Regions from separate parts of the Homo sapiens genome. Here region 2 is linked to region 1. Evidence: fine-mapped expression QTL. A gene starts in region 1. The other region holds a variant in brackets. All regions are shown on one strand. Distances are from middle to middle.

Region 1 (4,385 bases):
GGGAAGCCCCAAGGTGACTTCTCAGAACTCCAGAGAAAGCTGCCTGGAGGCGTCTTCAGTGACGCCAGCAGTGAAGGGCTGTGGGAGCAGGCAGCGGGGAGCTTGGTGTGAGTGGGCACTGGGATGTCAGGGCTTAGCTGGCTGAAGGCTTGAACTTGTCAGGGGACAAGGGCAGCCTGGCAGAGCTGGTGATAGTGGCTGAGGAGGGGCTCAGGGGCTCTCAGAGAGGCCTCCTGAAGACCACTCCCCTTTGCTTGCCTGGTGCTCCAGCCAGGGGAGACGGGAGGGTTTGCAGAGGTTTCTGTCTATGGACATCCCCAGCTGTGACTGCAGGGCCAACTGCATGTGGAACACTGGTTCATTTCAGCGTTGGCTAAAATGTCAGTGAAGCCCCAGGAGGCTTAGAGTAGGGGGTCCAGAGGGACATTGTGATCCTGGCAGGGAAGGACACTAGAGGCAGGATCTTTCCCAGCCCCAGAGCTCTGGAGGACTTGGAGAAGTATGGAGAGAGGACCCTGACTCCTCTACCGGAACAAAGACTCTTCACTCAGGTACCTGCTTTAGGAAGGGCTGGAAATTGACACTTCACTTCAGTGTCCTCCCCTGACTTCTCAGAACCACCAAACAATAGATGGTTAGTCCCTTGTGCTGTGGACAACCTGTGTATCTGAATACTGCAGTCTTTTTTTCAGATGAAGAGTCAGTGTTTCCCCTTCATTCTGGGGTTTCCCAGGTAGATGTCTTGGGTGGTCCCTGGGCTGGGAGTTGGCACAAGTGGCTGGGCAGATCCCTGTGAAAGAGGAGGCTGGTAGTTGCACGGTATGTGGTGCTGACAGACAGCGGCATGGCATGGCCTTGGGTGAGTGGGGGGGGGAGGCAGGGGATCTGTAACCCTTCGTGCATGTGGCCCCAGGGCATGTATAGCACAGTGTGCATAGGAGGCCAGGCAAGAGAACTTTTCTTGCTAAGTGACTCAGTCTAGGAACGAGGTCTCCAAGTGCCTACTCTGGGAGGGCTCTTATGTGTTGACGTGAGTTGGACTGTGTCCTTGTGTGTGTGTGTGTCCACAGGAGGGTGTGGGGCTGAGCCCTCCCTCCTTCTCCTGGACAGCTCCAAAGAACAGAGCGGGTGATTCACTGGCCCCCACCCACCCTCAGTTGGTCCAGCCAAGGCCAGAGCTCAAAGAGGAAGGGTTTTTTTTGGAGGGGAACGTGGTGGTTCCAGACAATGAAGGCCTGGGGCAGACTTTGCTGGATTCCCCCTTAGTGCTCCGTGGGAATACTTTTGGGTTTTGACCCAGCCTCCTTTCCACCCTCTAGACCCCCAACAATTGTCCCTGGGCAGAGGTGGGGGCGAGGGGAGGGGAGGGCTGGTGGGCAGGGGACACTGAGGGGAAGAAATAGGCCTGTGGAATGGTGGGAGGGGAGAACTGGGCCCAGGGAGGGGGAGAGGGGAGGAGGGGGAGGAAGTGGGGAAATGCAAACCAAATGTTGGCCCCGGGTACAGTCAAGAAAAACACACTCTCGCGGGAGCCTGGAGCGGGGCTCCCTTTCAGAAGGGCAGGAAAGGCTGGGACAGATGTTTGCAGGAAAGAAAGAAAGAAGGGGGAAAAAAAAAGAAATAGGAAAAAAATTGGAATGAAACCCACAGCCTGGGGGCAGGGCCATTCTTCCCCAGTCTCGGGCCCTATTTCTTCTGTGTTAAGGCCTGTCCTGGGCTCTGAGCTTGGCGCGTGGGCACCAGAGTCTGTCCCAGTCTGTGTGTGCAAATGCATGTGTGTTCCGAGGAGGCCAGGAAGGCAGGCACGGGTACTCAGAGAAGGGGAGGGGCCAAGGCACCCTGAGTGTGCTGATTGTGTGGGCCTGGGGCTGTCTGTTCATCCATCAGTGGTCTGGAGGGTTCCAGGAGTGAAGGCCCCCAGGCTGGTTTGCCAGGGGCGGGGGTCTGCAGTGAGGAGGGAGGACTCCAGGCCTACCAGCACCAGATCAGAAGACTGAGGAGCCTTGGTGGCACACAGGGGTTGTGTGTCCGGGGGTGGGGGGCACGGCCTGGGGGGGCCCTGCCTCTGGTAGCTTTCCCTTTTCCCTGTCCCCTTTACACCCCCTGCAAAGCAGGGTTCCTGACCCTCAAGGCCACCGGTGGAGCCTGGGAGGAGGGAGGAGAGAGGAGGCTGGGACGAGGGGTGGAGTGGGGGGAGGAGGAGGAGGAGGGAGGGTGAGCTGGAGGCAGCAGGGCGAGAGGCCCAGCAGATGCTGGCGGAGCCGGAGCAGCCGCGGACTCAGAGAGCCCTTCTGCCAGCGCCGCGGGGACTCTAGCTTCAGGGGCTCTTCACAGGCCCTGGGCGTGCCTCAGTGACGGGACCCAGCAAAGATGACGTGGATCTGTCTGTCCTGCATGCTCTGGGTAGGTCTGGCTGCTTTAGCTGCGACGTTACTCTTCCTCAAACCCCCCGCCCCCCACCGGCCCCTGCCACCTTATCCTTTTGCTGAGAGCCCGGGGTCGGGGGGTGTCAGTCTTGAAGGAGGGGCCTTTCTGTCTCTGACCTACAGAAGGACAGACTGACTTGAGCAACCCTCAGCCGGAAGACTTTCCCCACCAACAGGGCCCAGGCCCAGGGTCCCGGGTCAGTACATCCCCTGCCCCACCCCCCCACCCCCCAATGGAGTCCCAGAGCTGTAAGTGGAAGGAGGCCACAGAGAAGTTTGCTTCTCTTTAGAGCCTTTCCTCCCGACTTGCATCCTACAATGGGGTGAAAATTCTTCACCGCCCCCCCTCAGTTGCTGAGCCCAAGATCTTGAGGAGGAGGCAGTGGTGGGGCTGGGGAGCAAAGAATAGTAGTCCAAAATATTAAGTCTGGAAGAGCTGGGCTGTGGGAGAATTCTCAGAGTCCATCCCTTTTATTCCTTCTACACCCAGTTTCAGCTTCCACCCACTGCCATCCCTTCCTCCACAGCCCTCCCCTGCTACCAAGACCTCTCCATCCTGGAGGAGGGAGCCATGGCCCGCTCTTCCCCCTTTCTCTCTTGGCTCCAGGTTCAGGGAGGTGGGTTTCAGGATGGGGATGCCAGGGGGGCCAGCAGAGAGGCCTGGGGGCCACGTGGTGAAGGTTAAAAGTCTTAAGGCCAGACCTGGGCTGAGGCTCCTGGGTAAAGGGGGATGGGAGAGGGCTGCCTGCTGCAGAAGGGCTGGGGGTCAGAGGAGGAGAGGACCCCTTCCTCAGAGGGGCTCCTGTGGGGCTGTCTTGGCCAGGCAAAGGCATGCATGGGGTCAGGAGGGTGAGGAAGTCGTCCCTGGCTGAGGTTACTGTTGGGCTCTGAGAGAGTGATGGCTGGTTTGGGGGAGGGGGCTTCAGGGCTGTGATCCAGATGTGGCCTTTCCTGTCCCTTTCCTTGTTCTGGCCAGTCCTCGGGAGGGCCCTCTTGGCCCAGGCAAGCCCATGCTGGGGGCAGTTGTGGGAACACAAACTCGGGCAGCCAGGTGTCCTCTGGGCAAAGAAAGAAAGGGTGGGGGAGGGGGCCTGGAATGAGGCGGTTTGGGTGGCATGTTGGGCTGGGGTGCTGGGATGGATTGGATTAATAGATTGAGAGTGACTGGGGAGGCCTGCACACAGGATGCATTTGTGGTTTACTGGGCTGGTGTTGACATCTGGGAAATGGGAGCCTTGGCCAGGTTCGTCTCTGTGCTGAGGACAGAGGTAGGCAGGAGGGAGCTCTGCAGCAAGAAGGATGGCAGGTAGACGTCCAGGGGTGACACAAGAAGGATGGCAGGTAGACCTCCAGGGGTGACGAGCTGCTGTGACTGGAGAGAGGGCTCTATAGATCCCTTCAGCTGACTGATACTGGGAAAAGTGCCTCATCCTGGTGAGCCTCTGCTTTCCCGTTGGTGAAATGAGGATTGCAGAGAAACAGGGTACAGAGAGGTAGGGATGAAATTTTGTATCCAATTCCCCAGGGCAGTGCCTGGCAGGTAGAGTGCCCTATGGGTGTTATACCCTCCCTGAGAGTAAGGGGAAGAGTCTGGGGACCAAGGCAGCTGTGAGTGCTGCTTCCTTGAGTGTCTTTATTTTTATTTATTCATTTTTTTTTTAATTGAGATGGAGTCTCACTCTGTCACCCAGGCTGGAGTGCAATGGCATGATCTTGGCTCACTATAACCTCTACCTCCTGGGTCCAAGCAATTCTCCTGCCTCAGCCTCCCGAGTAGCTGGGACTACAAGTGCGTGCCAACATGTCCAGCTAATTTTTTATATTTTTAGTAGAGATGGGGTTTCATCGTGTTGGCCAGGCTGGCCTCGAACTCCTGACCTCAAGTGATCCTCCCGTCTCAGCCTCCCAAAGTGCTGGGATTATAGGTGTGAGCCACTGCGCCTGGCCTTGAGTGTCTTT
Region 2 (4,385 bases), 190 kb after region 1:
ATTTCAGAATTTTGGGAGGCTGAGGTGGAAGGATTGCTCGAAGTGAGGCATTCAAGACCAGCCTGTAGAATATCAGAAGACCCTGTTTTTACAAAACAGTAAAAAAATTATCCAGGCATGGTGGCTCATGCCTGTAGTCCCAGCTACGCTGGAGGCTAATGTGGGATAATCTGCTAGAGCATGGGAGTTTGAGGCTGCAGTGAGCTGTGATCATGCCACTGCACTCCAGCCTGGGTGACAGAGCAGGATTCTGTTTCAAAAAAAAAAAAAAAATTATGTACCATGTACAATGTGATGTTTTGATAAATGCATACATTGTGGGTTACATCAATATGCTAATATATCCATCACTCAATTCTTATTAATATTGAAATTAGAGTTATGCTGGATCAATGGTTTAATGAATTAGGGGAATTAGGGGATTTATTGACCTACACAAAGATATATCAATGCAAAACAATAACAGCAATGCCAATTGTCACTTGAAGGCTTGCTTTATGTTAAGCACTGGCTAAGCTGTACATGGAGTCGCTCAAAAACCCAGTGACGTGGGTACCATGATCATCGTCTTTGTTTTATAGATACTTAGTAAGTGCTGGGGTGAGGGTTTGAGCCCAGTTCTGCTGGACTCCAGAGCTCACAACCAGTGTGCTGGCTGCTTAGAGCAATCATCAAACGTTCAGACTGAGCCTAACTCAGGGCTGACTGCCAGGGTCTGGTATGAAAAGCAGCGTTCCTTCTGCCAAAGAGTTGCAGAGCTCACCTTCAGCCCAGCCAAACTTGTGCTTCTTTCCAGCTCTAGGGTTTTAATTCCTACTGAATTTTTGTCTTAGACCCCACAGATGAATCGAAAGATAGCTCCGGCCCTGCCAACTCAACTGCAGACCTGCTGAAACAAGGGGCAGGTGAGTGGTCACCTGAAACTGTACCCATGCCCAGGCCTCTCTTTCTGCCTTCCTGCCCTGACCCCTCCTGCACGTGCAGGCTGGAGGTCTCTCCAGGCCCAAATGTCTCTGGGAAGATCACATTTCTATGTGCAGATGCCTTGGCTCAAGGCTAGCCTGAAATTTATCTGCTACCTTCTCCCTGAAGAATGGATCTGGGTTAATGTCCTCACCCACGCCAGCTCCCATGACTCCCCCTTGGGTTGGTTTCTTCCAGCCTGCAATGTGCTCTTCGTCAACTCTGTGGACATGGAGTCACTCACTGGGCCACAGGCCATCTCTAAAGCCACATCTGAGACGTTGGCTGCAGACCCCACGCCAGCTGCCACCATCGTTCACTTCAAAGTCTCTGCCCAGGGAATCACTCTGACTGACAACCAGAGAAAGTAAGACTCCCCTGCCTGCTCCTCGGTGGGGTTCTCCTTCCTGTGACTCATCTATTCATCCGTGTACCCACACATTTACCACTTGATTGATTCCTTGCACCCAACTGCTCATCTACCTTCTCATCCATCTATCTTGCATCTACCTCCCATCTACCCAGCTACTTATCCATCCATCCATCCATGCACCCATCCATGCACCCATCCATGCACCCATCCATCCATCCATCCATCCATCCATGCACCTATCCATCCATCCATCCATCCATCCATCCATCCATCCATGCATCCATCCATGCACCTATCCATCCATCCATCCATGCATCCATCCATGCATCCATCCATCCATCCATCCATCCATCCATGCATCCATCCATCCATCCATCCATCCATCCATCCATCCATCCATGCATCCATCCATCCATCCATCCATCCATCCATCCATCCATGCATCCATCCATCCATCCATCCATCCATGCATCCATCCATCCATCCATCCATCCATCCATGCATCCATCCATGCACCTATCCATCCATCCATCCATGCATCCATCCATCCATCCATCCATCCATGCATCCATCCATCCATCCATCCATCCATCCATCCATGCATCCATCCATCCATCCATCCATCCATCCATCCATGCCTCCATCCCTGCATTTATTCATCCCTCATCTATCCCTTACCACCC[G/A]TTTTTCCCTTCATCCATCTGTATCTCCATTCATCTATCCATCCACCCATTCATCCATCCTTCTATGAGAATTTGCCAGCATTGGGTATACGGCTGTAAATACAACTGATAAAAAGGACCTGCTTTCTAGGAGCAGAGCCCGTCCACTTGGACTCTCTCCTAACAGTGTCCCTGGCCTCTTTGCTTCTTCTTCCAGCCCCTCCCCACATTTCCTATTCCTCAGTGCCAGTTTCTTCCTTCCCCAGCCCCTAGCATTTGGGATGATTCTATGGCACATCTGTCTCTGTACATTGCTTGGGTCACCAGTGTCAACAGCTCAGGCCATCTTGCTCATAAGAGAGAAGTTGTGTGGACCTGCGATAGCCACAGATGGTGGAAAGGTGGCCTGACCTGCTGGTGGAAGGAGGGGAAAAGCAGCCCCTTCAGCACTCATTCTCTGTTTATCTGATGTCTGTGCTGCAGGCTCTTTTTCAGACGCCACTACCCTCTCAACACTGTCACCTTCTGTGACCTGGATCCACAGGAAAGAAAGTAAGTCTCTTGTACACAGCTTCTCTCCCACACAGCTTTCTAACACTGACGTCTGTGTGGGTGCATGCATGTGCATGTGTGTGTGTGTGTGTGTGCATGTGCATACATTCTCCATTCAGCTGGAAGGTCTGCCCATGTGTGAGTAATCGTGTTGGGCATCTTTTGAGTCTTTCCCACTATAGATATGGAGACCCTCCCAGGGACTCAGTGCCCACTGCTACCCCCTCTGCCATGCCCTGACCTTGAATCTGCTTCTCCTCTCCATGATGGGGAGAGCCCCTCAGGAGGCAGGCTGCAGTGTTCTCTCGACCTTGAATGCATCTGTGTGATCTTGGGCAGCTCCTGTCCCTGGGGAATGGGGGAATGGGGGAATGAGGGGGGAATGGGGGGCAGCTCCTCTCCCCAGACCTTCCTGCAGAGGGTCTGGGCATGGGTGGGGCTGGGCTCTAGGGAGAAAGTACGATGATTTACCCTGAGCCCACTTTCTCTCCACAGGTGGATGAAAACAGAGGGTGGTGCCCCTGCTAAGTAAGTGTGACTTCTTACCCCTGCCCAGCAGGCTGGCCTTTGTACTTCACAGTGAGGGAAGCACGGGGCACATTTAGAAACCAGGGCTGGGGGTAGGGAAAGAGCAGCAAAAACCTTTGTGCCAAGGTCACTCAGCTTCCGAGTGAAGCTTGACCAGGCTTCCAGGCCTTTTGCCTTGTCCTGCCTCGAGGCCAGAGGCCCAGCGTCTGGTCCAGCTGCCTTCACTCTCCCAGGGTTAGAAGCAGCAGGGATGGCAGGAAGTGGACAGAAAACAGTCTTATTAGAAGCAATGGAAATGGGTCAGAGATTGCTTACATGATCTTTTCTGCCCCAATTCTAGCTGCCTTTATTTCTGCTCTTGCTTTTTTGGTGGGCTTTCCTGTGAGTCTTGTGGCCGAGCAAATCAGCCTTATCAGAATGTGGGAGCCCAGAAAGTCTGAATTCTGGGGATGGCCCTGGGACCTTCGGGTGGATTCCTCCATCCAGCAGACATGTCCTAGGGGCCTCCAAGGGACTCAGATCCTGCCTGGGTCTCTGACCCTGCCCTCAGGAGGCCCATTGGCACAGCAGATAAGACAGATGTCTAAATAGCACTAAGATGCTTCTGTGATTTTCAAACTGTATTCCAAGGATCCTAGCATCCTTGGATTGTACCTGATGTACAGAAGAGAGGGAAAGCTCTGCTGCTCCTTGCAGTTGTCTATCAGCAGTAACTAGGGTTTTTTCACAATCACAAAACCAAACAAAATATAGGCATAACCTGGGGTCTGAAGCTGACATGAGACTATCACCATGATCTGTCATCTACTTTTCACTTTGTCAGGATTATTCCAACAGCCCTATTATCCTCACTGATTGACTTTATAATAGGTAAATGTCGTGCTTTTGGATTGCTGTTTATAGCTGTAAAATACTGCTTTCACCTTTATATATGCAGACTTCATATAAGGTTGCTTTAGAAAAACAAAACGTTCAGTGTTAAAAAAATGACAGTTGCAAGGGAGGGAGAGGCAGCAAGAGAGTTCAGCTTACGTCTGGGGAGCTCATGCAGGAGAACACATCAGCACCTCAGAGAGGTGGAAAGAGCAGATATTTAAGGACGGGTCTTCAAAGACAGGTTCAATTTGGACAGGTCAAAATGAGAATGGGAGTAGGAGGGGCTATTTCAGGGGAGGGGCCTCATGGCCACCAGCCTGCAAGCTCCCCAAGGGAAGGGCCATGTCTGACACATGGGGAGGTGGTATATATTTGTTGAGTGAAGAAATGAGAGAATGGAGGCTGGAAGAGCAGAGGCAGGAGGAGGCTAG

What was found. PIP is the estimated chance that this variant, and not a neighbour inherited with it, causes the effect. A credible set is the group of variants that fine-mapping cannot tell apart.
Region 2: its variant is the best candidate, but not a certain one, in a credible set for the expression of TNS1 in whole blood (TOPMed, PIP 0.65).

Annotation. Positions count from the first base shown.
Region 1 is chr2:218,000,858-218,005,242 of GRCh38, reverse strand. It overlaps TNS1 (tensin 1), which reads left to right and starts at 2,248. Exons shown (of 33, transcript NM_001387777.1): 1 at 2,248-2,403. The coding sequence starts at 2,371. RefSeq lists enhancers at 963-1,062, 2,803-3,303, 3,304-3,804.
Region 2 is chr2:217,806,768-217,811,152 of GRCh38, reverse strand. It overlaps TNS1 (tensin 1), which reads left to right. Exons shown (of 33, transcript NM_001387777.1): 29 at 834-905; 30 at 1,162-1,330; 31 at 2,482-2,550; 32 at 3,046-3,078. Among named protein-coding and RNA genes, the nearest start is that of DIRC3, 19 kb to the right of the region's middle. The variant G/A (reference allele first, on the strand shown) is at 2,020.